Linked DNA regions of Homo sapiens: region 2 is linked to region 1. Evidence: fine-mapped expression QTL. A gene starts in region 1. The other region holds a variant in brackets. All regions are shown on one strand. Distances are between the middles of the regions.

Region 1 (15,832 bases):
ACTCAACTGACATTAGTCACAATCTGTGTCTGAGTTGCCCCCCTTGTCTCAATTCAGGGCCTTCTCAATTAAAGTATTGCTAAGCAGAGCCAGATCTGATTCAGCAAACCTTTAGCCAAATGTCATACTGGCCCACGGTCATCCTCTACAGAGCATCACGAAGCAGTTAATCCAATTTGAGTAAGACTAAAAATCACATAATGAATCCCTAGAAAAACATGTAAAACAATAAAAGTTATGTTAATTATATATACTTAGTCATTGGAGAAACCCCATCTGTCCCTAAATGGTCAATGAAGACAATACTTCTCTAGTGTTAATAATTAGCTTATCCTTGCCATAGAGACTAATGGAAGCTCTCTTCTCATGATTGCTAAAACCACAGTTTCCTCTACCGTGGTAAATTACAAGAAGCATACAGACTACAGAGCCCCGAAGGGTGCAAACTATCACCAGATGCAACGAGAGACAACAGCTCCCTTCCAGTGATCCCTACACACTCCTAAAAGGTGTGCAGTAAATGAATGTCAGTAAATGGAATGATATTTTCAATTTGCCTGGATATAGTAGGAGGTTTGTCAATCATTTAGTAAATAAAATTCTTCGATTCCGCTTGTCAAAATTCTTAGGTTCTGCTTGTCTTTTTCAGCTACCAGAGAATTCCAGGGGGCACGGACTTCTCACTTTCCTGGGCGTGAGCCCTGTTCTCTGACACATAGCTTAACAGAGCTTTTGCTTCTCCTAGGAATGTTCTAATTCCACAGCCAGTTTCCTCTGATTTCAGAAGCAAAGACTCATCAAGCCCTCCCTACCATCCTAACCACATGCAGGATGGGAGATCTCTTCTCAGAACAGCCGGTTTCCCTGTCCATAGAGAAGCTGAAAAGGTCACTGCTTGTTCCTACACAGCCCACTTCAGACCCACTGGCTGAAGCTAGCAAAAAAATAAAATAAAACCATGGTAGATTTCGTAGAGATTTCATGCCCTGTGGCTTCCTCCTTGTCGTTCAGATGTTAGCTAAGATTTGCAAGCAAAAAGAACTGCTTTCAAATATACTAAGTAACTATGGAAATAAATTAAGCCATTGACGCTGGCTTGATAAAAAGCAGATCACTGAGACAATGACAAGCTAAGAAGGAAGCAAGGGAAACGGTCCCCAGCAATGAAGTTAACTCTTTCCCAAGCCAGTCGTTTGGTGTGGAATATCTTTTGGTTCTGAAGATGCAACTATTATTTCAACCTTATGCTAAGCAAGACCACAATGCCATATCGTTACCTGACTGAGGGAAGAGAGAAATGTAAACGTGTTGTCCCATTGTTCATGTGCCTGGAACTTTCCTCTTATGGACATATATATCTAAAATTTGCTTCTTAGACCAAATGATGACCAAGTATCACTAGTATAATTTCTGGTACCACCTGCACACAACTGCAATCATGAAATGAATAGTTCAGCCAAAATTATAAAATAGGAGGCAAGAGGTTCCAACATGGAAATCAGGTCAATCCAGCAACCTCAGGCTTTCTTGGAAAGTGTGCTATTGGCCAGGTCATCACTACACACACCCAAATCAAAGGTTTTTGCCACCTAACTGGTCATATATTTTCAGCAGAAATACAGGATCTGAATAACAAATGAAACAGGAAGAATGTGCATCCTATTAGCAGTTAAATGAACCCAAGAATTGTTACTCTATATTTTCAGGGTTTGGTGTGAGAACTTATCGAATATTTAAAAAAAACAGACAGGGCCGGGCATGGTGGCTCACGCCTGTAATCCCAGCACTTTGAGAGGCTGAGGCAGGAGGATCACTTGAGGTCAGGAGTTCGAGATCAGCCTGGCCAAATGCTGAAACCCCATCTCTACTAAAATACAAAAAAAATTAGCCAGGCATGGTGGCATGTAGTCTCAGCTACTCAGGAGGCTGAGGCAGGAGAATTGCTTGAACCTGGGAGGTAGAGGTTGCAGTGAGCCGAGATAGCCCCACTGCACTCCAGCCTGGGCAATAGAGCAAGACCCTGTCTAAATAAATAAATAAATAAACAGGCGGCCTACATTTTGTGACTCCTACCCACAAAAGCCACACACATGGCACCATCACGACTGTGAATAGAGGATTCCAGTTATGGTGTGGTGTGGTGTAGAATGTCTCGATTCAGAGTGGGTCCCACTTCAGTTAAAACAAGCAGCTTTGGAAAAGAATAGCTCTGCCCAGCCTGACTACAGGAAGCTTTCCCCACACATCTTTAGGGATGCACGAGGCTGGACCAGTTCACATCAGGGACTGGAAAAAGACTGAATATTTCAGGGACCAGGGAGGTTCCATGTCCACAGGAATCAGGCTGATCTTTTCTAAACTCTCTGCTCATTGATTAAAAGTAGCAAAATCAGCAACTCACTGGGTCTCCAGCAGTTCTGCCTGGTACAACCAGGAAGAGCCCAAGTCAGTGCAAGAAAGACAGATTTTGAGCTGCATTCTTTATTTCTAGTAGCTAAAGGTACAAGCTGTATAATTGTAAGCAGGTGGGAAGAACAGGAAGCGGGGAAGAACAAAGCTTGAAATGGGACAGTCGGAACATGTGGCTACAGTCCTGCCACTGTTGTGGTAAATGCTTTCTCCTCCTGAACTGCAAACTCCTTTGCCTATAAAATGCTAGGACTGGCCCAAAAGCTTTCAGGAAAAGTCTCTGCAAGCTCTGATGCTCCATATTTTTAACTACTCTTTAATCAGAAACATATTAACCAATTTTAAAAAGCCTTTAAACACATTTGTTTACAACACTGAAGACTTGAGTCATACATCTTGCTCATGGAGGATGTGATTGGCACAGTTTACATCAAAAGACTGTTTGCAATGGCTCACAAGTTAACTCCTTGAAGACAATTAAAGGCAAATGGAATGCACATTTGTCCCTTCTCTGAATCCATCTGAACTGCGGTGGGAAGCAGAATCTTGGAGTGTCCAGAAGAGCTGCCCAGTCCCCAAATTCATATCTACTGGGCTTGGAAATTATGAGACAAATTACAAATCAGGATCACAATATGAAAATTTATTTGCTCGCTGAGGGCGGTGGCTCACGCCTGTAATCCCAGCACTTTGGGAGGCCGAGGTGGGCAGATCACCTGAGGTCAGGAGTTCGACACCAGCTTGGCCAACATGGTGAAACCTCGTCTCTACCAAAAAATACAAAAAATAGCCAGGCATAGTGGTGCACGCCTGTAATCCCAGCTACTGAGGAGACTGAGACATGTGAATTGCTTGAACCCAGGAGGTGGAGGTTGCAGTGAGCCAAGATCACACTGCTGCACTCCAGCCTGGGTGACAGAGCAAGACTCTATCTCAAAAAAAAAGAAAAAAAAATTTGTTTGTCCTTCCATATTACCAGGCAGCACTAGAAAATCATTTTCAAATTTGCTCGGTAGCTGGACAAAACAGTTGGGGATTACAATTTTGCTCTAGATAATTTCTAAAGTGGATTACTCACCATGAGAATAGACTAAATTTCACAAGTCACAAAATGGAAGATAATGTTTTTGAAGTCCCAAACATGAGCCTGGTGTGGCTACAGCCTCAAAGCCGTTGGAGTATTTAACAGGGGAAAGAGCTCACTGGTTTTAAACAAGCCTCTTCCCCATGGCATAAGCAAAGCATTAAAAATAAGAATGGGATTTTTAAAAAAGCTTTTCATTTGCCATTTGCGTTTGGAAGATTGGAGTACTCACATCATTTCAGCCGAATTTCTAAGTATTACACTGTACGGCTAGTAACGTTCCACCCAAGTGATTGGCAAGGTATTATTACGATAATGTCCTCAATTTTCACATACAATATTTGAGCTGTTTGCTTTCTCAGAATACAAAACCCTGAGCTATTTTCTGTAATTATACCAGATGCATTTTAAGAAGCATTCTTAGTCTTGAAAAAAGGAAAGAAAACAATCCTGCAACTACTGAGGTCGGTTTGGTTTTTCTCCTGAGAACAGAGGAGTCACTGAATGTCACCTTCTTAATGGGCTCACAGTCAGCCCTTCGCTGGGTTAATTTGCTTAGCATGTTTTATGTAGCAGCCTTAGAATATTGCTCTGCACAGACTAGAGGGCTGGACATGGCTTGAGATTGTTGAAATCAATTCAATGGCACCCTTCCATCCAGAAAATTCAACTGCAGATGTTGAGAATGTGCTCCTGTCCGACTCAAGCTCCATGTGTCCAAGGCAGCTTGTGCTGGCGGAAGGCCAGATCTGCCATCCCCTCCTTGAGCCCCAGCCACCACCCCAGGCTTCCTCACCTCTCGGTGCCCCTAACCCTAGAGTCGCACAGGGCTCTGCTCTCAGAGCTTGGTTGATTTAATGCTCTGCTGCCACCTTGAAGTGTTTCATAATGTTTGAATGTGGGGCACACATTTTCATTTTGCACCGAGACCCACAAATTATGCAGCCAGTCCTGCGCCCCACTCCCCACGCCAAAGGCAGAGGAAATGTGAAGTTCTCCCTGCTCCCTGCCCACCTACCCTGCTTAAAATAGTGCTTGATTCACTCATTTCTTTTTGGCTTTGGAATTTCTAATGGCTCCCAACTGCCCCACACAGAATCCCACTCCTTTCTCAGCCCAGCACTTGGGGCCTCTTACAGCCTAGCCCAGCCCTGGTTTCCCCTGCCTCCTTAGTTCCACCCTCTCCTCGCCACCATCTCTTCCATCTCTAGTCTAGTCTTTGTTCCTGCTTCTGGGCCTGGTCTGCAGGTAGGACTCTGGGCACACCCCTCCCCACCATTTCTGGTGTTTTGTAACTTTCACCTAGGTAGCTACACTGCGCACTTGGCAGCCCACCACCAACACTTAACTGTACCAGCTCCCACTCCTTGCACTGACACCTTGGGGGCCTGCCTCCTCCTCTCAGCTGCAAGGCCCTTGTCCTGAGCTTTGAGCCCCCACGGACCAGGCAGAACTGGTCCACCTCAGCTACAGAAGAACAAACACTTCACCAACAATGGAGAAGTAAACAGTTATTCCAAACAATGTGGGTTCAAAAAAATCTAGAACAGCCTGATTCATCTGAAGCTAGTTTGGGCAGCTTGGATTATCCAGACAACAGCCTCAGTTCTCTTCCTTTCATGCACGTGGACGTGGCTACGTAGCCAGCAGAAGGGAAGAACACAGCCCATGACCTCGGCATCAACTCGGAGCTCCATCTGCGCACCAGTGCGTCCAACCTTTTCCCACACTCCCTACCTGGTATCTGTGAGAGGCTTTAACATGCCAGTTCCAAAAGAAGACACCTTGGCTCTCTACAGAGAAGTGCATGGCCTGAGGTAGGAGATAAGAGGAGGCCACATGGCTCATAAAATAGGATGACAGCCATGGTGGCTGTAGAGTTCCTGCTGCCAAGGGCGATTCTGACAAATGCACTTACGAAACCTGGCATTTAGACAGGCCAAAGTCCTCCCACTTGGTGGAAGAGGTCCTCTTTATTCTGTCTTCTTTAATATTTTCTTACTTGTTGAGCAACAGAAGGGAGAATAGAATAGGAAATTGTGGTTATCTGGGAACAGAGACATAGGGGAAGGGGACTGGGTTTTCCCCAGCTCACCCACCATGGATTTTCCAGACTCTCACCAATGAGTAAGAAGCAGAATTCCAGGAAGGACATAAGCTAGGACTGATACAAATATCAAACTCTTTGACTAAAGTAGTCTGCCCTACCTGTTGGTCAGTAGTCCTATGAAAGGGTTGGTGATGAGCTGGACGGTGGCTTTCGAGGCAAACAACAGACCAACTTGCACGTTTTCATTCAGGAGGTCTTTGTCTTCACTGGGACAGTCGGAAGGAACAGCGGACGCGTTGGTCACCATGTGCTGTGTGGCGGTCTGATGAAGTGTCAGGTCTCTGGTAGCATTCCCGGTGACCATAGTCGAGTTATCATAATAGGAGAAGATGCTCTGGAAGCTGTCTGAGATGGAGGCAGTGTGCACTGGCCTGGCCGTCTGGATTTCTGTAGCATTCTTCTCATGCTTAATGCTGTACAGATAACTTGGGATGATGGGGACTGGGGATAAGAGCAGAATGGCAAGGTGGTGATCACACTGAAACCCTCTCCAGGAAAAAAGCCAGCAAAAAACTATGGTTGTGTCGGCAGGGAGCAGTGGCTCACACCTGTAATTCCAGGACTTTGGGAAGCTGAGGCAGGTGGATCACCTGAGGTCAGGAGTTCGAGACCAGGCTGGCCAACATGGAGAAACCCTCTCTCTACTAAAAATACAAAAATTAGCTGGGCGTGGTGGCACCCACCTGTAATCCCAGCTCCTTTGGAGGCTGAGAAAGGAGGATCGCTTGAACCTGGGAGGTGGAAGTTGCAGTGAGCAAAGATTGCACCACTGCACTCCAGCCTGGGTGACAGAGTGAGACTCTGTCTCAAACAAACAAAACAACAATAACAACAACAAAACTATGGTTGTGTCAAATGCCAGAAGAGGTCCAGAGGGTGACAGGTCTACCCCAAAACAGGAGCCCTGTGCCATATGTCTATAACGACATTGGAGCAAGTTCACTTTACTTAGCTCACTAGAAAGAACCATGCCCCCAACGGCCCTGAGAACTGTCTCCTCTCAAAAGGCAGCTGCTGTGCTGAACTGACTGGTCCCAGAGATTCTGTCATTTGTGGGTTTCTTCCACATTGTTCCTTCAAGGAATATTTCAGAAAAGCAAAATGTGGCCTGACGTTAAGAGAGTGCTGACCTGGAGTCAACCAGTGCTTCTAAGAAAGAGAGGCTCAAAAGACTTTCAAATGAATGAATCAAGGAAACAGAAAACTACACTTCATTATGTGTCTTAGAAAAAAATTAACCTGCAGGAAGTAATAACTTGGAAATTCTGCAACAGGCCCACTTCATCCTTCTATTATGAGTGGGAATCTGTAATTTTTCCTACAACTTGTAAGATTTAAGAATTCCTAAGGCTTTCACAAGGAAAAAGCAAAACTGAAACAGGCCAGGCACGGTGGCTCAGGCCTGTAATCCCAGCATTTTGGGAGGTCGAGGCGGGTAGATCACCTGAGGTCAGGAGTTCAAGACCAGCCTGGCCAACATGGCAAAATCCTGTCTCTAATAAAAATACAAAAATTAGCCAGCTTTGGTGGGGCATGCCGGTAACCCAGCTACTCGGGAGGCTAATGCAGGAGAATCACTTGAACCCGGGAGGTGGAGGTTGCAGTGAGCCAAGACTGTGCCACTGCCCTCCAGCCTGGGCAACAGAGTGAGACTCCATTTCAAAAAAACAAACAAAAACCAAAATAAAAAGCAACAACAAAAAATACAAATTAAATTGTGAAACATATAATCGAAGCTGTGAGCACATGTGTCCAATGGAGCATTCGAGCCGAAGCAGAACTAATGCCGTTGGTACTGAACAGGGATGAGCTCCACGGCTCTGATAACTCCTCGAGATGAAACCTATCAGATGCTCTGAAAACTGCTGTGAGAAAACCTGCAAATGGAGAGAAAGGAAACAGCTCCCACCACTTACAGTCTAAATGAGTCGTGATTTTTTTTTCATTCATTAAAAACTGGGATTTTTTTTTTTAAGGAAATGCATGCCAAATACTTCTCTGTTAATGGGCCTAATTAAGGGACCTGGATTTCGATTATTTAATTTTTCAAAATTCCACTATAGGAAAAATAATAGAACCAAGATTGTTCAAATTGTTCTTGCAATGGTTCCTGAAATATTTCCATCTCAAGTCATTCACTAATACAGTATATCTAAATGTCTTGTTTTTGGAGTAAGGGATCGAAACTTGCTCTTTTAGGTACTACACCAAATTACTAACCTGCCTTTTCGAGTAGCCCAATAATTATTCTAACACGTAATTTTGAACTTTAGGAATTTCTCTTTTGGAACAGAAATCTTTTTCATCGCAGTGAAAGCAGGCAAGAGGATGCGGGAAATTATCAGGGGGAAACATAAGTTCTGGGTCTTATCGGATGTCACAGTTTTTGACCCGAGCATCAGGAAAGCGAAGCCACACAACGCGGCTCCTCCTAGCCCCGGCGCGGCAGCCTGGAGGGGATGTCTTTTTTGCAAAGCGAGTTCTCCAACTTTCCCGGGCCTTGGCGGAGCTCCGGGACCGCGCAGGGGTAAGTGGAGTGCCGGGGAAGGGGCGCTGGGGCTGGGGTGCCGGGGCAGGGGTGCCCTGTCCGCACGTACCCACGACAGTGAGCAGCATGTTGTCCAGCAGCAGCGCCAGGAACACGATGAACAGGATGAGCTTCCGCGAGCGGCGGCTCTCCTGCAGCCAGCGGACCAGCGCCAGCTCGCTCAGGGCCATGGCTCCGGGGCTCCGCTGCGGGCGCGGTGCGCGGTGAGGACCCAAGGCGGCCGTGGACCCCCCATTCTCCCGTCCCCCAGGCCGCGGAAGGGCGGGTCAGGGAGCCGCGCGCACCGGCATCCGGGGACACCCCCGGGCGCCCCAGCCTCGGCTCACCTGCCTCGAGCGCGTCCCCACGAGAGCCCGCGCTCCCTGGAAAGAGCGCCCGCGAGCGCCGTCGGGGACCCAATCTGGAGACCCAACCTAGAACCCCCAGGACGCTGCCCTGATCCCCGCCGCCCCCAACTGTGCCACCTCCCAAACTGCACGCTCGGCCCCGTGCACCTTGCGCCCTGCGCCCTGCGCCCCGGCTGCCCCGGGGTCCCCGCAGCCCCGCCCGCGTAGCTCTGGGGGCCTCCCTGCCTCCCTGCCTCCCCCGGGCCCGCTCCCCTCCGGCACCGCGCCCTGCGAGCAGGGAACCGGGGCCGTGTTACCTCGGGGTCGCTTGCGATGCCTGCCCGGGTCCTCCGTGCCCGCGCCAACGCCCGCACCGCAGTGGGCTCCGTCAGTCCGGGCGGCTCCGGGTCGCAGTCTCCGCCCCAGCGCCCCGCCGCCGCCGCTCAGTTTACCCCGTCCGGCTCTGACGTCACGGCCGGAGGGAGCGGGGGCGGGGGGCTGGGGCGCCCCGGCCTCCGCCCGCCCGCGCCGTCGCTGCGCAGGAGGGGCTGCCGCCTCCCTGTCCCCGCCTCGGCCGCGGCCGCGCCTCTTCCCCGGACCCAGCGCGTGGCCGAGTGCCTTGGGGACCCAGGCCTGGGGAAGAGGCAGGGGCGCAGAGGGAAAGAGGTCAGAGAGCCTGGACGAAGAGTGAAGGGCCAGGGACCAAGGCGAGGAGGCACGGACCAGGGCTTTCTTGTGGCTCCAAGTGGTGGCTCGAGCTGCTTTGAATAAATCACGTGGCTCTTTGAGCCTCAGTGTCCCTGAAATGGGCCGTGAGGACGGGAATGATGGCCGCGGGGTGAGATCGCCAGGGGTGACAGGTGCTGGGAGCCAGGGACAGGCTTCCCTTTCCTGAAGAAGCCACCCTTTGCACCCACCATCCCCTCCCCTCTCCGACCTCTGCAGCCCGATGCGGGGTGCCACTCGGAGGAGCCTTTGAGCCTTGGGCATCCTCAAGCTGGTGACTTGGAAACGGGGGGGGGAAGGGGACACTTTTCAGTGTCGCCCTATGGTGGGAGTTGGGGAGGTGAGGGTCCCAGGTCTCAGAAAGTGGGAGCAGTGGGTTTGGGCCTCTGGGGCCACCTGAGCAGGGGACCCTGGAGGCTAGGTGAGTACACCTGGCCTCAGAGAAAGGGCTAGGGGGCGGGCTGTGGGCGGGGCAGCAGGCCTAGGCCCTGTGTCCTGTACTCTCTCCCCACCATGCTGTGCCTGGGCGTCTGGGTGAGAGGTGGTTCCTAGAGCCAGGGGCCTGCGTGTGGCTGGTGCAGAGCTGTCATCCTCACTGCTAAGGGCTAAGAGCCTGCCTTTGATTTCCAGGTCCCTTTTATAAGCAAAGGAGAAACAAACAGATGCCCTCTGACATCGCTGGAGCTCTGCAGGCCCTCCGAGGGGACCGTGGGAGCAAGAGCTGTTTTCTTGAAAAGCTACCTAGAATAAATGTTACCCTGTCACAGTCTCTTAGCAGAAGAGTGGGCTTGTTTTATTAATGTTAGCTTGTTGACAGCAGGAGGCCACTGAGAACAGCAGTGTGATGTGTGGCTGCCCCCGCTCTCTCCACCTCCCTACTCCCTTGCAGAGACCCCCTGTGCTTCTCATTGCTACCCCATGTGTGAGAAGAGATGGTTGAATAGGTAAGTAGGTCAGGAACATGGGTCTCCAGGATGTCACAGGATGTGCACAACTTAAACATTAAACAGGGAGGACAGAAGGAAAACCACTTAGGAGGAGGAAGCAGATGGCAGAGAGCCGTTTAAGATGGCAGGAGGGTATCACTCAGGGAGTGCCCCAGAGTGCTTGCTCTGGAGTTTCAGAACCCAAGGATGCAGACTCTACCCCAGGGACCACATGGGGACAGAGAGGCATTATGGTAAAGGGTGCCTGCCAGGATGCCCAGGTCCCAGTCTGCTACTTCCTTGACTGGTGGCCTTGGGCTGGTTATGTATCCTCTTTGTGGCTTAGTTTCGCCATCTCTGGAATGGGGATACTCACTGGACCTACTGCAGCGTGGTTGTGAGAATTCCAGGGGAATGCATAGGCAGCTCTTAGCACAGTGCCTGGCACAAAGTGAGAGCTCCGTAAGTGCCGGCCCCTCATTCATGCGCTGAATATGTGTTGAGCTCTTACTACGTGCCAGGCACTATGGTTAATGCTGGGGAGACAGTAAAGCCTAGACAAATCCCTGCTGACATTCTGACCTGATAGCAGCATCATAGCAGTGAACACTGGAAGCCACACCAAACTCCAGCCCAGCCAGCTGGATGTAGATGGCTCCAGGGACAATGCCAGCCCGGCGTTCCCGCCTCCGGATCACTGTCACCACCCCTAGAGCACTATGGCCTATAACAGACTTTTTGTTGAAACCCCCTAAAAAATGTTTAACAATATGTTTGCCTTACACATTTTCAAGTTGGCATCTAAAATGAGTTTTTTAATCATATATTTAAATAGGGTATATTGTATTTATTGACCTTTATGTATAAAATTATTATCTCTCTCTTTTAAATATACCCAAAGGAATTTGTATAAGAATACAAAACTGCCATGTTATACTTAAGAATATAAACAAGTATCCCTTTAACAGTCAAAATATTTACATTGTGTTCTTTACCCCTTTTAAGTATGTTTCCATTCCGTTTTCCAACAGAATTGTATCCTACCCTAATGCTTTTATTGTTTAAATTCTGTATTCATCACCTATCTATTATGTGAACCACAATAAATATGTGAATATGCATTAGCTTTTTAAAATTTTCTACACGTGGACATAAAGATGGCAACAACAGACCCTGGTGGGGACTACTAAAGGGGAAAGGGAGGGAGGGGGGAAAAGGTTGAAAAACTAACTCTTGGGTACTATGCTCACTACCAGGGGGACAGGATCAGTCATACCCCACACCTCAACATCACTCAATATACCAGTGTAACAACCCTGCACATGTACCCCCTGAATCCAAAACAAAAGTTGAAAGTATAAAAAAAAGTTTAGGCACAGTGACTCATGCCTGTAATCCCAGCATTTTGGTAGGCTGAGGTGGGAGGATCTCTTGAGGCCAGGAGTTTGAGACCAGCCTGGGCAAGATAGTGAGACCCTCTACAAAAAAGTTTAAAATTTAGTTGAGCATCGTGGTACACACGTGGGGTCCCAGTTACTTGGAAGGCTGGGGTGGGAGGATCACTTGAGCCCAGGAAGTCAAGGCTGCAGTGAGCCATGATCACACCACTGCACTCTAGCCTGGGCAACAGAGCAAGACCCTGCCTCAAAAATTAATTAATGATTAATTAATAAGGCTCTAAAATTCTCTTTAGGATTATGTGATTATAACAATGATTAATGGTATTTAAGTGATCAAGACATCATACACAAATATGTATTCTGATAAATAATTATTAAACATAAAAAGGAAAATTGTCTTAAAAGTGCATTACTTAAGGGATGGATAGAGAGGGGATTTTTGGAGTCTTGCTGAAAGAGACACCAAAAGTGTCTCTGTTTGGTGCCGAGGATGTTTTTGTGCCTCAGGACACTGTATACAGGAAGGGGGTCAGACTCAGGTTAGATAGGAAGGGAGCCTTTCTTTGCCCAGGGGAAGATGGGAGACTGTGGAGAGGGGAGGCCATGCAGGAGCATGTGCATGTCCCCACCCAGGTCCATATCAGCCAGATAAGCTTTAGAATGGAAGACATGAAAATTGAGGGTCTCAAACGGCTCGGGACATCTTCATATACACTCAGTGTCCTGCCATTCCAGCCTGAAGAGCCTCCACGGCCACTTCTCAAACATCTTAGCCCTCGCCTTCCCCCTCTGGCCACAGTGGTTCCTCTCAGCATTTCTCTGCCCCAGGGCCTTTGCACATTTTCTTTCCGCTTCCTCTTCTTTTCTAGTTATTTCCTCATGGAGGAAAGCATGCTGTCCAGCATCAGACAGGCCCCTCCCTTATAAACCCTCATGAAGGTGTTACTTCTCCTTTTTACTTCACTTCCTCCTTTGAGTAACCCTCAAAGAAACATTACTTCCTCTAGAGTTACTTCCTCTCTAGAGGAAAGTAACTCTCCCTCCTCTCCCTCCACTCACTTGCACCTTTTTTAGACACTGGGGACTGAGGAGGTACAAAGGTGGTACCCGAGTTTACTTTTTCATTACATTTCAATAATTGAGAATGATAATTTCTAAATTCTATTTAGGAAGTAGCCACCTGGGACATAGCAGTTATTTGAAATAGACATTACTGGAGATGCACTAACAGTTTAAGCTGTAGACAGCATCCTAGTGGGGTCTCTTACAAGTTACATGACCTTGGTCATTCTACTTGACCTTTACATACCTGTTTCTTATCTGTCTCTCCAGCAGGATAACAGTCCCTCCCTCCAGCATAGTTATAGAGAGAAAGTGGGATGGGCCTTGCCTAGTGCCTGACATTAGGTGTTCTCTGTTACTGGAAAATGGAAACTGCTGGATACAGGGAAGGTGTAGGTGTTTCCTGGGGGAAAAATCCTCAGGTGCTCCCCCACCAGAGAACTTGGAAACAAGGACAGTACCCTCACCTCCTGGGCATTAAGCTGTGACATTCAAATAATGGGTCAGAGCAGAAACGAACAAAACCATCCCAAGAGACTCAGTGGTTCCTAGCCTAGCCCAACCTGGCGTACTAGTTATCACAGACAGGGAAGGAAGGGAGAGTAGAGTAGCCAGGCAGGAGCCAGCGAGCTGGCACAGGATTGGAACAGATAGGTCACAGAAGGGGGAGCCCAAATAGCTACCAAGCTCATGAAGAGACACTCATACGCTAGTAATCAGAGAAATGCCTATTAAAATGAGGTTGAGACACAGCCCTACACCTGGAGCACTGGCAACAATAGGAAGTTGGGTGAGACCATTTGTTGGTGAAAATATAGCTAAATGAGAGTACTTTCCTTGGGGTGCATGGGGACTGGTGCAGCCTTTCTGGAGAGCAATCAGGAACTTTTTGGTGGAATTAAGTAAGTGCCCACCCTCTGATCCAGAGTTCTCTCTCTCTCTCCCTCTCTCTCTGCCATCTTTTGTTCAAACCAAGAAGCCAGATTTAAAAGCCCCCCAGAGGCTACCCACAGAAGAGTCCCTGCACAAAGAGTTGCTCCCAGGAAGAGCCTGGGTAAATGTAGGATACATTGTACGTTTCAGGACACACCAGGGAAGTCGCTGAGACAGTTACCACTGCACTTTGTGGGAAATTCCATCCCATTTGTACATAGCCCCGGGTGGCTCCCATGGCCTGTATCCCAGTCCCCTGAATTTCCAGGGCTGGCAGCCTCAGCTGAACTTTCCCAGGAGGGCTACACCTAGACAGGATTTGTTTGCGTCATCTTCAGACTGGGTAGAGCAAGTGCCTTTTGGGCAAGACCCTCAAGAGCTCCTTGCCAACCTCCTCCTAGAAGAGCAAAGACAAGGTGCTAGTGGGAGGATTACTGCATGGCTTGAGGGAGGGTCTGCCCGCTCCCCACACCGTGGCTGGAGAGTAGGAAGTGAGAGGGCCCAGAACAGGGACCCGAAGGTAGGCTGCGGTCTCTCTCTCTCTCTCTCTCTCTCTTTCTCTGTGTGTGTGTGTGTCCTGTTTGTCTCTGAGAAATCCCTACTCAGAACCTAAGGGGCATAGATAAGGATGGTCATTGCCATGTCGTGTGCAGCAGTGGGGAACTGATGCAACCTGGGTTTCCCTCACTAGGGACGATGTAAGTGAAATGTGGAGGACGCGACTGTAGAGTACCATGGAGCCATAGAAGCTGTGCACTGCGTTGCACACATCTCCACAGGCAGATTTTAGGAGGCCTTGGGTCTTGGGAGGAGGAGGAGGGCAAGTTCTATAGCATAATTCCAGGTGGGTACATAAGAAGCAGATGGGCACCACTACATTTTTGGAGGCTTCGTCCCCATCCAAGGGTATGAATCAAGTACATCGGAATTGGATCCCCTTCTCCAGGAGGGGGCCAGGAATGGGGATCTAGGATGAAGTGGAAAAGTGGAAATAAGTGAAAAGAAACCAAGAAATGGGCACCACAGTCTGCTCAGAACTGGGCAGAGGATCAACTCACTGCTCTGTACATAAGGTACCCCACCACTGCCACCCCTGCCAAAAGGATGTGTTGGTGATAAAGAGGCTGTCACCATAGACACTTAGAAAAGGCAAACACTTTCAATGTAGCGTTGGCTGCACCGAACACACAGGCCATGCAGGGAGACGCCGCAGGGAGACGCCTCCTGGGGAGCAGGCAGGGCCATGAGCTGTCTCAAGCCAGACTGAAGGGCAGTGATAGCAGATGGAAACCTCCTTCCCCAGAAAACAATGGCAAAACATTGGAAAAGGGCAATGTCTGGCTCAAGGCAAAAGACTCTTGGATGGATTCTTTTTGTTTTGTGTGTTTTGTTTTTGCCTTTTCCCTCAAACTGTCTTTATAAACTTTTAACTGTTTAAAATTAAAATTGTAACATCATCTCGAGGGGCTCATGACATATGTAGATGCATTACTTACAACAACTGTTATTAAGGGATGGGGGTGGTTCCGGGGCTATAATGAAGCCAGATGTCCATACTTTATGTGAAGGGCCTATGATTAACTGTAAATGGACTGTGAAAAGTTAAGGATGTATGATGGAATCCTAGCACAACCACTGTCAAAAATAATGCAAAGAATAGCTAAACTGCTGACAGAAAAATTAAAACTAAATGCATTCTAAGAAAAAGTATTCAAGTCATTTTAAAAGATGGGGAAGGAGGAACAGATGAACAAAAACCAGAGGAGTCAGGCAGAAAACAAAAATAAAATGATAGAGGAAACCCAGCTAAATCAAGAATTACATTAAACATCAATGAACACTACAAGTAAAAGAAAGCAGTTGTCAGAATGGATTTTAAAAAGAGTATCAACTCTATGTTGTCTATAAGAGTCACTCTTTAAATATAAAGACACAGATCAGTTGGAAGTAAATGGATGGAAAAAAAACAATGCATGTAAACTGTAAGCGTAAGAAGGCTGAAGTGAGTGTATTAATTTCAGATAAAATAGATTTCAAAAACAAAACTTGAAAAAGAGATCTAAAAAGGAGCTTTCATTATGGGAAAAGGAGTCAATCAACAGGCAGATATAAAAGTCGTAATGCATATGCACCCAATAATAAGGCCCCAAATCTATGAAAAAAAATGGACAGAATGAAAGGGAGAAATAGATGTTTCCATAATCAAAGTGGGGAAATTGAACACCCTTTCTCAACAATTGATAGAACACCTGAACAAAAAAATCACCAGACACAGAAGATCAAAATAATAGCAGCAGCCACTTTGGCT
Region 2 (12,843 bases), 27 kb before region 1:
TTTGCAGTTTGCAAATCTAAATAGATTAAAATGTATCTGATGTTGGCCTATTGTAACCCATCTTGTCTGTTAGCTATTACTCCCAGCTCTTGTCCCCAGATAAGACTCGACTCAGTGCTTAACCCATTTATCATTTCCCAAGACATTATCCAGTGATCTGTGTAACATGTGAAGATAAGGACTTCCTTGACCCTCTAAGTTAGGCTGCCAGCTCAACCTGTCAGCTTCTAACTTAACTGTTTTTTATGCTGCTTGCCAAGTGAATTGATACTTGTATTCAATAAAGAGCTCAATTTTTAAAATAATGGCGGCACTAGACTTTGTACACCAGGACCGTTCTCCCCATGTAACACAAAGGTTTAACCCCCCTAACAATAAATGTCTCATCTCCCCCAGATTAATGATTCGCAAGGAAATGTAGGGGTGGAGAGATGGAGCAGGTTAAAAAATGAAATTTGAGGGCCCTGTCCTCATGTGACAACAGTGTCAACTTTGAGAAACACTGCCCTAGTTACATGGCATTATCTAAGACTACAGCACTGTCATCTGGCTGACAACAGCTGACGGGACACCTACTAGGTGTTGCATCTCAGTGCCTTTAAGGTCCTATCCCAGCATCTTAGTTACCTCCCTGCACAGGCAAGGACAGGGACTCCAGGGTCCCAGGTGGAGTGCTCACTGCTGGTTCAGTGCCCAGGGAACGCTATCCTATAGAGGCGGGAGTTGAGGTAAACTTTGAAAGATGGAAAAGGTTTGGACAGCAAGGGAGGTGGCAATGAGTAAAACATGAGTTATTTACCAAGCAGGACACTAAGTAAGCCAGCCTGGCCACCACAGAGGTCTGCTGAGGAGGCACAGTGAGATACCAGTTGGGACACCCAACTGGAATGCAGGGCATGGGGCCTCGATCCTTGCACGGCTCCCAGGCAGGCAGGTCACCTTATAAAGAACGGTCATCACTACCTTATTCCTAATTGCCTTCCATCTCTTGGCTCATCCACATTAGACCTGAATGTAGGAATATGTCATCTTAAGGACCCCAGAACCTAGGACTGGGCACATGATAGGAACGCAACAAAAAACTGCACTGCAGGAAAAGCAGTTCAGTCAGACTATTTGGCATCATGCATACTTAACTGACCAGCATTTGTCAATTCACCAAAAACATATTTATTAGCAGCCTGTTTCAGGTGAAGTTTTCCTCCTTTAAATGTTCTGTAGCCTTTAAAACCTAGCTCACTGGCTTCCAAACCTCTCTTGAAAGATCTATTGTGCAATAATTGTACTTTTTAAAAAAAAGTTATACACAAATAAGCCAGGTGGCATGTAATGTTTCAAAAGTGCCATGAAGAAAGGCATGAACAGCATCAAGCAGGTCAGTCAGGTGCCCGGGGAACAAGTAGGGCGGCCGCAGTGCAGGCAGGTAAATTAAATCTGCTCTCCACACACTGCTGTGGTGAGGAAGGTGTGTTTGACTCTCAACCAAAGAGAAAATCAATAGGAGAGGATTGGCATTTGAATTCAGAGCAAAGCCCTCTTACTGAGAGGTGAGCCCCAGCCCCTCCAAATGCCCCTTTCATGAGTTAGGATCTCCTAAGTGGTACAAACAAACCAACATGGTGGACCAAATGAAAAGTATAAGTAATACAAAGCTGGGGTAGTGAACCCATAAAAGCATTAAAAGATAAGAGTGCCAGTCTTTGAGATTTTGATGATAGGTCCTGGGCCTTCTGAGTAGGAAAGTTTTATTCTCTTTAACATAACTAGAAAAGCAATGATGGTTTTGCACCCACTATTTAAATACCTGCAAAGGGACAAATTCTATAAACAACTTAGAATATGCAGAATGTGGTCTATCTCAGCAGCCTCGGGCCACCCCATCCTTGCCCCACGCATGGCATCCAGAAAACAGAGCTATTGCTGGAAGGGCTTTATGGAACAACTATCAGAGCCATCCAGGAAAAGAAAGCTGCAATCCTCAAACCACCTAATTTCTTGTCTTGGCAACAATTAGAAACTTCAAGAGTAAAATTAAGAAGCGTGACTTGTCTTTAAAAATAATTCTTCAACCTGGAAAAAAAAATCCGCAACACAGCTCTTCTCAACTGGGAATTTTGAGAGTGAAGCGCTACCGTGTAACTGTCTTATAAGACACTTTTCCTCAAATGGTAATGTTGATATTTCCTGTATGTGCAGAGGGACTTGAGTAACAGTTTTTTTCCTCCACCTATACTGATAATGCTGATTATAAAAAACAGAAATCCAGTAAACCAAATGGAAGACAAACTCACATGCTTATAAACTAGTTCATGATTCTGTCACTTGTGATCCATGAAAACAGCATTATATCTTACAATATAAAACAGCTTAAGTCCAAACACCTTGTTATCAGGATGCTGTCTAATGGAAGAATGATTTGCTAAGGGTCGTATGCCTTCTGGCCCTCACATCCCCCAGCATTTGGCAACTGCTCATCCTGAACGCCAGCACTTGTCTGCTCTGGGGTTTCTCAACTGCATGGTCATTGATTCTTCCTCCTCCCTCACACACTGCTGTCCTGCCTGCATGCCCCCTTATCATTAGGTGCTGTCGGCCGCCACCGCTGGCTTCCTGCTCTGCTTGCACAATGAGTAGGCAGCAACTGCTGGCCACCACTCTCAAATGTCACCATTAGGCCAGTCAAATGGCATCCAATGTGATGCCTTCAATTATGGGCATCATTGATGGGCAGCGAGATGCACACCTTCTCAAGTTTTTAATGATTTATCTTGCTAGGTGCTTATTAAGGATTGTAACATCTTGCAGTGAAAGTGGCTTCCTGGAAACCTATAATTCTTACTGTTTGGCCTTTCAGGATCGTCTCTTCCACTTCCTTCAGCATTTTTTTAAAACATGAACTGAAGTATTCGTTTAAATGGGGAAAGAGGAGGGGTACTGAGGCCTGCCTTCTGCCAGTCCTTCTGCGGAACACAGTGGTAGTTGGCTGGGCAAGCACATTCTCTGCTCATCCTCTGACCTCATTCATTTCCCCAAGGCCACAGATAAGCCATCAGGCTGCCGTTCACAAACGGACATCACAACAGCCACTGATGTTTGCCGGCTTGGCAAGGGGAGCCCATTCAGGAGTTCTGGGGTCTGTATAGCAAAAGGAAACTCTCACATCACAGAGGAGGAAAAAGGGAGAAAATTCAGGTATTGCTGGACTGACGGGGGAAGCCAGAGAGTTAGATAAGCAGGAAAGAGTGGGGTGATATTGGAAATAGGAACACACTTTTTGAGCCACAGGGCCAGTCACTCTGTTGGGATTCTTTCATTTAATCCTCACAACAATCCTATGAGGTAGACGTTATCATTTCTCCATGCAACAGAGGAGGAAACCAAGACTCATAAGCCTCTACATGGTGGGGCCAGTGTGGCTCCCAGGCCCATGCTAGCCCTAACTATCTCCCAGGAGTCTTCAAACAGTTTCCTGGGCTACAGGAGCATTTGTAGGTGATTTTATACACACACACACAGACACACACAAACACATATACACACATATATACTTTTTTTGGTCAAAAACATTGAGTAACCTCCATTCAGCCTTAAACTGTTATCATGGCAACAGAATGGCAGTTTGCATTTGTGCTGAGAATTTTCTGACTCCATTTCGGCAAGGTATTATGCTAGGGTCAGCCAAGCAAAGATGCATCTGAAATTTACACACCCAAGCTGGAAAGCAGATGTCTCCTAAGAGAGGTCTGAGAAGGTGATGTGGTTTTCAGAGCTGGGGAAGCATCTAAGCAAGCGGAGGGAAGGACAAGGGGATGGCTTCTGTCTGAGTTATTTCCACAGCACCTTCCATACCTTTTCCATGAGTCAGACGGGCCATGCATTACTCAAAAGTATCTAGTTAAATCCTATTTAAAATAAAGGGCACAAGGCCAGTGCCCAGTGCTTGATATATTTTAAAATATGTGGAATGAATTAATGAATGTAAAAAACACCCAAGACAAACACAGGCTGCACATAACCTTATTTTAAGGTTTGTCTTTAAATCTCCTTTTGGGGAAAAGCATCAAAGGGCAGTTCAGGAAATGCCAAAGCATTAAGATGCATTCAGTTCCACTGTCAGAAAGACCTTCTGATGTACTTCCAAGAGAACATTACAAACAAACCTCACATCTATTCAAACACAAAAATGCATGTCCTCTTGTTCACCTCATTCATCCTTAATCCAAGACACTCTCCTTTCACCTGGACAAGTACCTATCAGCATTTGCTGTTTTAAAAACTGGCAACACCAGATAAGAAAGATGATCAGAAACACTGAGCGTCTCCTTGCTGGGTAAGGTAAATACCTTAGAAAGGTTAAAATGACTCATGCATTTCAAAATTCAAATTTTGAATCAATTAATTTGGACTTTTTCAAAAGAGGGATGCTTTATACTCTGTATCTTGCCTATGGCTATAATTTTGGTCATAAAGTTATGAATTAAATCGTTCTGTGTGTTCACATATACCCCAAAGTCCATATACAATGATTTTTCCATAAAAATCGTAAAATCATCTCTAAAATCCTACATACAGTAAAGACAAGACAGCAACTATTACTGAATGCTGTAAGGGTTATGAGAAAAGCAACAGCACCACAAATGGCTAACCTTGGGCATAAGTACAGGAGGCAGAAAGATTGTGTCCAAGATTTTCAAGAACCATAGAAAATCAAATTGAATGATTCCAGGTTTATACTTGGTCGACAAAAGAGCAACACTGATGCTAATCTATGTACAAAAATAATTTCATTCTCCCAGTTTATAAACATAAGCTTGAAAGAAATAACTTTCACAGTAATAAAAAAATAAAAGAAGTAACTGCTCTATGTGGTACAAACTAAAAAGGAATTCTCACCATTTATGTTTGAAGGCTTTAGAATGAAACCATGAGGAAGCTATCAGGAAGGCCATGCTAAAATTATCAAGAAATGCTCACTGCATCCTAAATTTTTCTTACCATTTTTTCTTCTTTGGCAGGTGGACTTCGAAGAAAAAAGCAGAGAGGGGCAAAAAGAATATCAATTATCCCAATAATTGTCATGAGCCATGGAAATCCAATTGCCTTTGCAATAGCACCACCAGCAGAAGGACCTTTCAGGAAACAGAGAATTAGATAAAGCTCTTCCAAATGTCTTGTAGACTGAAAGATGCAAAGATTTAAACAATTTTAGTAGACGTTATCCATTACGTATTGAGGTAAAAGGTTCTTATGAAAAGCCAATGTCCTTACCTATAGCATACCCCATACAAAATGCCACATCCGCAATGGCGTACACACTCCCATAGACGGACACGTGCCGCAGGTCTACGAGGTAGCCCATGATAGGCATCATTGACGAATCCACCATTCCTGAAGACAGTCAGGGAACACAGTGTATAGAAAACGGATGTAAACCCAAAATGGGCCGAATATCAGGGAGTGTGTCTTAAACTCACCACCCTGCCAGCTCTTCCCCTTCTGTCATCACCACCTGCAAGTCTTGGGGTGATACTAATCTTTGAGTAGAAAGAATGAAGGAAGCCTTTTCTGACCCCCAGAGGAGGTCAGGTTCCCCTCGTATACAGATGTTCTCTCACAGCATCATCTCAATTGTCATTCATTCTTCAATTCTTTGCTAAATGCCCAACTCTTCTGTTGGTTTTGTTCACCCATATCCCCAGCACTTGTACATATTAGGAAGCAGCAAGCACCATTTCAATGAAAGAAACTTTCCTCATGTGCCTGCCACTGACACATGTGGAGGGGAGGGCACCAACCTCTGAGTCCCTGCCAGTGTGTTCACAGACACTGGCTCACAGCAGCCAATCATGAGCATCCCCATTTTATAGATGAGGAAACCAATACTCAGAGAGGCGAGGCTTGACCACACTCACTGAGCCAGGGAGTCTGAGCCAGGAACTCTGAACACACACCATCTTTATGCTACCTGCTCCCCACTATTCAAGAGACGAGATTCTAATGCTGGTCGTGGTTGTTGCTGGGGTGTATGTCTGTATGTATATGTGTGTATTTATGAGTATGTATGTATATGTATATATGTATCTGTGTATGTCTATGTATATGTGTGTATGCATGTGTGTATGTGTATTATGTATATGTATATATGTATCTGTGTATGTATGTGTATATATGTGTGTACATGTGTTTGCATGTGTATGTGTCTGTGTATATGTGTTTGTGTATGTACTTGTATTTGTGTATGTGTGTGTATGTGTATGTGTGTAGGTGTGTGTGTATGTGTGTATATGTATGTGTGTATGTGTGCATATGTATGTGGGTGGGTGTTTGTATGTGTATGTGTATCTACGTGTATGTATGTATGCATATGTGTGTATGTATATTTGTGTATGTGTATGTGTTTATGTGGGGGGTGTATGTGTGTATGTGTGTGTGTATGCGTGTGTCAGTGTGTGTATGTGTGTTTGTGTGTATGAATGTGTGTGTTTGTGTATGAGTGTGTATGTGTATGTATGTGTGTGCATGTGTGTTTTAGCTTCTTTTAGTTCACACACATACACACAACACACACATACACACTCATACACACAACACACACATACATGGATACACATGCATACACACACACACACACATAAACATACATACACACACATAATTTCTGAGCAGGGCCAGATGATCTCTCGGACTCCTTGGAGTTCTGGGGCGTTCTGGTCCCCCCTATTATTCTCCACCTTGGAAACACCCATAGTCTAAGCGTGTGGCCCAGGTGTGACTGGCAGGAGGTGGGTCAGGCATGCAGGTGTGCTGAGTGGTGAGGGACAAGTGAACCAGAAAACAGCAAAGCAGGGAAGCACCAAAAGGATGCAGGCCAGGGGCCGTACAGTTAGCAACCTGCAACTCTGCCAGACCTGCAGAATGGCAAGGGGAGCCGCCAGAGGACTAGCACCCTCCCTAAAAAGATGGGCCAACCAGACAGTGGAGGACAAGGGGAGGCAAGGCAGAGGACAGGCAAACGGTCACCTGAGAAGGACCTAGAGTACCATACTGAGTTCTACCCCAGCCTCAGCAGCCTTCTACCATCTGTCCTCAGTGAAAGCCATGCTGTGCCACTGTACCACTCAAAGGTTGCGTTCCTGCTTCTACAGGGGTGGACTGAGCACTTATTTTTATCATGATCAATTGGTATATTATAAATAAGAGACAAAAGTATACCATTCACTCAAAATAGTGACAGATTTTTCCTAACATATTATCATTCTTAACATTACAAAAGCCCATCTCCTTGCCCATGGGAATTCCTGCAGCACAGGCGGTCATCAACACATTAGTCTGCTTTGTCTGTACTAAAACCTCTTCAAAATACATATGTGAAGCCTTTGCCCCCAGCCTCATGAGAAGACCTGCTCATAGGGAGGAGTCCACAAAAATGAGCTCTGTGCAAGGGATTCCTTTGTTTGCCCAGCCCCAGCAGTGGAGCATCAGTTTCCTTCTGTAAATATCAGCTTTTAAAAAATACTGGTTTTCAGGAAATAAATGACTAGTGCATAGAAGCAGGTGTCTTTACACGGAGAATCGACAGGCTGTAATTTAGCTAAGCTGCCTGCAGCCTCCTTCTAAGATTCTGGAAATTTAGGTTGAGGAACTACAGTCTACCAGAGGAAGAAGAACCCTTCCTAGTGGAAAAGCGGTTTTAAATGTAGGCACAAGGTTCGTGTGACTTACCAATTGCAAAACCAACTCCAAAGTTCGGAGCTATGAGTCCATAAATGTTTTTTGCAAATGGAATCTGTAAGAGGAAATAAACATTATGCTAAAATAACAAGAGATCCAACTCTAAATCATCTCGGAAAGTCTTGAACTTGTGTTTTCTCTGAGCGTGGTATGCCTGTTCCCTTCTGAAGAAAACAGGAGGAAGAAGGGTGGGGTTTGTGAAGAACCGGACCCTCCAAATCTTTAAAAGTCAAAGCTTGAAACGAGTTTTATGACCACCATGAAAAACTTGTCACCGGCATATGTGAAAGATCAGCCTAGTCCACCCTCAAGTTTTGACAAGAACAAGTAGGCCTCATGAGGGATGGATATTGGCCATTGGTAGAAGAGATTTTATTCTAGAAAAACATCTTGCTATTGTTTCAGGTTGGTTGTCCTGAAGTGTTTAAGACACTGTCAAGCTTAAGATGATGCAGGGGAAAAGTTAAACTGTGAAATAAAACATTTTAAATAATTTCTGACATAAAATGAAAATACACTCCTTGGAAAGTCTTGTCCAAACATTTTTAAGATGATAAAAAATTAGAATAAAATGAAAGCTGTAATAAAACATCAACAAACTCAAACGTAAAATGTTTCTTGGTGATTCTTGCCCAAAGCGCAAGTTTTATTCACAGATTGTTCCCACTTGTCAAATGCCATCTTTTACTCACACATAAAATGCTGACTCCAACAATTATCATTCCCAGAAGAGCACAAAGCCACCTACCAAAAGAAAAAGCACCATCAAGAAATGATCATTTGATTTTTTTCTAGTCCAAATTTTCAATGAAAATCAAAACAATTACTTGTAACAGCAAAGGCAGAAACAACTTAGAATTTTTTGAAAGAACTACATTATTGTAACAGAATGAGTGTTGTTTTCATATCATCTTACCTCCCCATTTTGTGTGCAAGTATCCCAAAAATATTGGTTCCAATGAGATAAGAGATACTAGCTGGCAAGAAGGCAACGCCTGTAAATTTATGAAAAGGAGACCTTATCAGTGCTGATATCAGTCATATGTTAGAAA[A/C]AGTAATAACTGTAGACACCACAATGTTGATGAGAGCAGATAAAACGAAGCCCCGGGGCCCACACCCCAGCAGCTAATATCCGGCGCCTGCCGGATCCGGTCTGGACCCACGTGGCTTATCCTCCACACAAAGCTGCTGAGACACTCCAGAAATGAAAGTCCTTTCTCTATCAACTGCTTCATCTTGCCTCCATCTCTGGCTGGTGGTGGGCTTCACACGTGGGCCAATACAAACAGCTCCTGCCTGGGAGCTCAGCACCTGCAATCTTATGTGTGATTTCATCCGACAGAAGTAAGACGCAGTCATTGAAAGAATTAGGGAACCGTGAGATAAACAAAAAGAAAAATGTTAAAATTACCCCAAACCCCATCCATTACTCAGATAATCACCACAGTTATTTTCTCCTGTAAGTTTATTTACATATATAAATATATTTATGTGTGTTTTGATTTACAAAAAAAAGGGATTATACTCTATCCTGCTTGTTTCAGTTAGCTTTATGAACATTTTTCTATGTCAGAAACATAAATGTCTGCCTGGTCATTTTTTGTTGTCAAGTCAGATTTTTTTTTTTTTTTTTTTTTTGAGATGGAGTCTCGCTCTGTCACCCAGGCTGGAGTGCAGCGGCACGATCTTGGCTCACTGCAACCTCTGCCTCCCAGGTTCAAGTGATTCTCTTGCCTCAGCCTCCCAAGTAGCTGAGACGACAGGCATGCGCCACCACGCCTAGTTAATTTTTGTATTTTTAGTAGAGACTGAGTTTCAACATGTTGGCCAGGCTGGGCTCAAACTCCTGACCTCAGGTGATCCGCCTGCCTCAGCCTCCCAAAGTGCTGGGATTACAGGCGTGAGCCACCACGTCCGGCCTCCTATCCAAGTTTTATTGCTGTCCCCATAGAGGACACCTGCATCCCCCAGGTTCTGATGTGCCCAGGGTGATTCCCTGCTGGTGGTGGCAGCAGTGGCCTTGAACCTGTCCTCCGCATTGAACAGAAAGGCCTAACCATTATCAGACCCAGCTTGGCTACAGGGGAATTGTCCACATCAGCTGTGTCTGGTCCTCATCCATCCAAGCTGTGTGTGGTCCTCAGAACCACAGGACAATCTCTTTATGAGTGACTGCTTTTCAAACTCCTAGTGATTTTAGTATTTTTTCCTTGAAATCAGATATACCAGACTTGATTCCAAGCCTTGCCCACACATAGTAAAAGTTACTTTGTTCTCAATCAGAGGACTGCATAAGTGAGACATGCAGGTAGATATCAGATGACCGAGTGCCTGCTACACTCAAAATGCATGGGGCCTGGAGGTCCTTCTCATCCCAGCAGCTGGCCACACACTCACGGGCAAGTGTGATCTTGTCTCTTTAGGATAAAGCACGAACGTCTACCATCAAACCCAGAAACAGGCTGAGTCTTCCAACACAGCAGGGACTTCCAAATAAATGGCTCCATGAGCTAAATCCAAAACCAGATCATTCTAGACATGGGAGTTCTGGGAAACACTAATAAAGAGCAATCTCATTTCATTTTCCAGAGAATTATTTCTGTCATGCTTAGCAATATGTGGTGGTCAAATAATTGTTCAGTGTAATCTGATTGAGCAAACATTTACTGACAGCCACGTGCCCAGCACAGCAGTGGCCTGCAGCAAAGACAATGACAACGTGATTCTTGTCCTGACGCAAGTGTTTTGAAGGAAAGGAGCAGATGACGTTTAAACTGTGACCTGGCCAAGTAAGGAACATAACAAAAACACAGGTGTCATGCTCTGGGGACCTGGAACTGCGTCTGGCCAAGCTCCACAGAGCAGATGGTATATAAACCTGGCCTCAAAAGCTGTGTCGTAGGACTTCCTACCAGCTCTAGGGACTGTTAGTCCGGATAGTAAGATATCATGACAACATTTGTCTCATGATAAGAATCCCCAAAGGCCAGGTAGGTATAAATGAATAAAACAAGCAAATTGCAAGCAGAAATAACAGTGCAGATACCATGATAAAGAACCACTGACATTCAGCCTCAGTGTCAGAGAAATAAAATGAAAAATGGAGCAAAGAGAGATCTGTGGTGACCCAGAGGGCCCAGACTCCATCTAGAAGGCAGACGCCACTCTCTGTGGCCATTCACTCCCCTGAGGGACTGCAGTTCCAGTATTGGAAGATCCTGTTTGTTTTTTGAGGTGGAGTCTCAATAGAGGCAGAATGTCAGTGGCTCTGTTGCCCAGGCTGGAGTGCAATGGCACGATCTCGGCTTAGTGCAACCTCTGCCTCTTGGGCTCAAGTGATCCACCTGCCTCAGCCTCCCAAAGTGCTAGGATTACAGGCATGAGCCACGCACCCAGCCTCAGCAAGAATTCTTTCTAGGGCTTCTCCCGACTCTGAGAAAAGTGTTGGCTGGGACTGGCCTGCAACAGTGCCCTGGGCCATGGCAGGAACCCTCCCTTCTGCGGGGCAACACTCTTCACATATCTCTGCTCACACCAGAAAGTTCACCAAAGGGAGATCTTCTACATTTTGGTACAATCTGGCTTCAGCCACGGCCTTGGCCAGCCAGTGAGAGAGGGGCTCCGGTCATCACGAAGCCTGCGGGGAGATGAGCTGGCCATCCAGCCCCGGAAGCAAAGGTGGAAATGAGACCTTGGGTTTCCTCCAAGCTCAAGATGACCCCTCCCTGAAGGCCAAGGGCTCGGCCTAGAACCAGAATAGGGGCAATGGTCTGCCCTGTCCTATGGCAGGCTTAGGAGGATCCTAAGTCCTCGCACCCCAGAGCCACAGAAGGCTGGCAGTCCCTCTTGTCTTCTGGTACAGGCCCGTGTCCTACCCTCCATCCCACTTTGCATCCCCACAGCTCATTAAATACAAAGGGGCTAGAAGAACCAGAAGACAAGAGTGTGCCTCCATCCTTGTCTGGGGCCTGTTGTCCAGGGCTTCAGTTTCCCTTTGGGGGCTTGTAGGCCTCACCCCAAACTGTAAGTCCCTAAGTCTCAAGGGGTCTGGAGAGGCCATCTGACCTAGAACTCAGATATAGAGAAAACACCATGAAATCATTCTTTCTCCACCCACTCAAGCCCAGGGCTTCCCCTCAAGTGGCAGATGAGGAATTTGGGGGGCAGGCTGGCAAGGGAGCGACGTGGAAGATGGGTAGGCTGCCATCTTTACTACCCCTAAAAAATGTGGCCAAAAACAATGCCTTCAGCAAGAGCAATCCTGTGTCACCCATGCAGCTAATAAGATTGTTTGCCCTGACTTCAAATATCATAGTCTTTCTCCAGAAACAGTGAAGGGAAGCATAAAGGCAGAACAGCCTCCCTTTCACCCTGGACTGGAGCGAGCTCAGAGAAGATTCCTGAACACCAGAGTCTGGGCTGCAGGGGCAGCTCCCCGCCCTCAGCACTGGGTCCTCCGCACTGCTTCACTCACAGTACCCCATCCCCAGGGTCAGGGAGCCATGGGCTGAAAGCTACAGAGAACTAGGGAAGGTGGGGTATTTCCCCTCCTGCTGGTGCTGACACAGGAGGCAGGTAGAGAAACCTGATTCTCTTAAAGACAGACATGTCTATCTCTGGGGCAAATGAAAGGAGGAACCTCGGTGGTGGAAATGTGCAGCAAGCGGGTTGAGTGAACGTCTGGCGCCGGTGATAGGCCCCACACAGCAATCTGATGAGATCCAGGCAGCCTGCACTCTGCTATCTGCCCCTGATGGCCCATGGCTTCTGGCTGACTTTAAAGATTTTATAAAGAAAGCCTCAGGCTTTGTCTGAAGAGGATGAGCACAAAACATCTTAAGTGTCCTGCACATGGCCAGGACACATTCAAAGAGGATGAGAGTTCAGCTAGGTGGCCGGGAGACCCAGTTCACGCCTGTAATCCCAATACTTTGAGAGGCTGAGGCAGGAGGACAGCTTGAGCCCAGGAGGTTGAGGCTACAGTGAGCCATGATTACACCAGAGCACTCCAGCCTGGGCAACAGGACGAGACCCTGTCTCTAAAAATAAATAAACAAATAAGAGCTTCTCAGCTCAAGAGTTGCATGCAAAGTCAACACAGCAGCTGGACTC

What was found. PIP is the estimated chance that this variant, and not a neighbour inherited with it, causes the effect.
Region 2: its variant is fine-mapped to the expression of SLC18A2 in blood mononuclear cells (TOPMed, PIP 0.97).

Annotation. Positions count from the first base shown.
Region 1 is chr10:117,234,183-117,250,014 of GRCh38, reverse strand. SLC18A2 (solute carrier family 18 member A2) reads right to left here and starts at 8,901. Exons shown (of 16, transcript NM_003054.6): 1 at 8,795-8,901; 2 at 8,201-8,336; 3 at 5,702-6,044. The coding sequence starts at 8,321. SLC18A2-AS1 (SLC18A2 antisense RNA 1) reads left to right here and starts at 8,018. Exons shown (of 3, transcript NR_184310.1): 1 at 8,018-8,130; 2 at 8,232-8,354; 3 at 9,834-11,250.
Region 2 is chr10:117,262,616-117,275,458 of GRCh38, reverse strand. It overlaps SLC18A2 (solute carrier family 18 member A2), which reads right to left. Exons shown (of 16, transcript NM_003054.6): 11 at 8,648-8,726; 12 at 8,424-8,475; 13 at 7,723-7,786; 14 at 5,269-5,388; 15 at 4,996-5,129. Among named protein-coding and RNA genes, the nearest start is that of SLC18A2-AS1, 27 kb to the right of the region's middle. The variant A/C (reference allele first, on the strand shown) is at 8,784.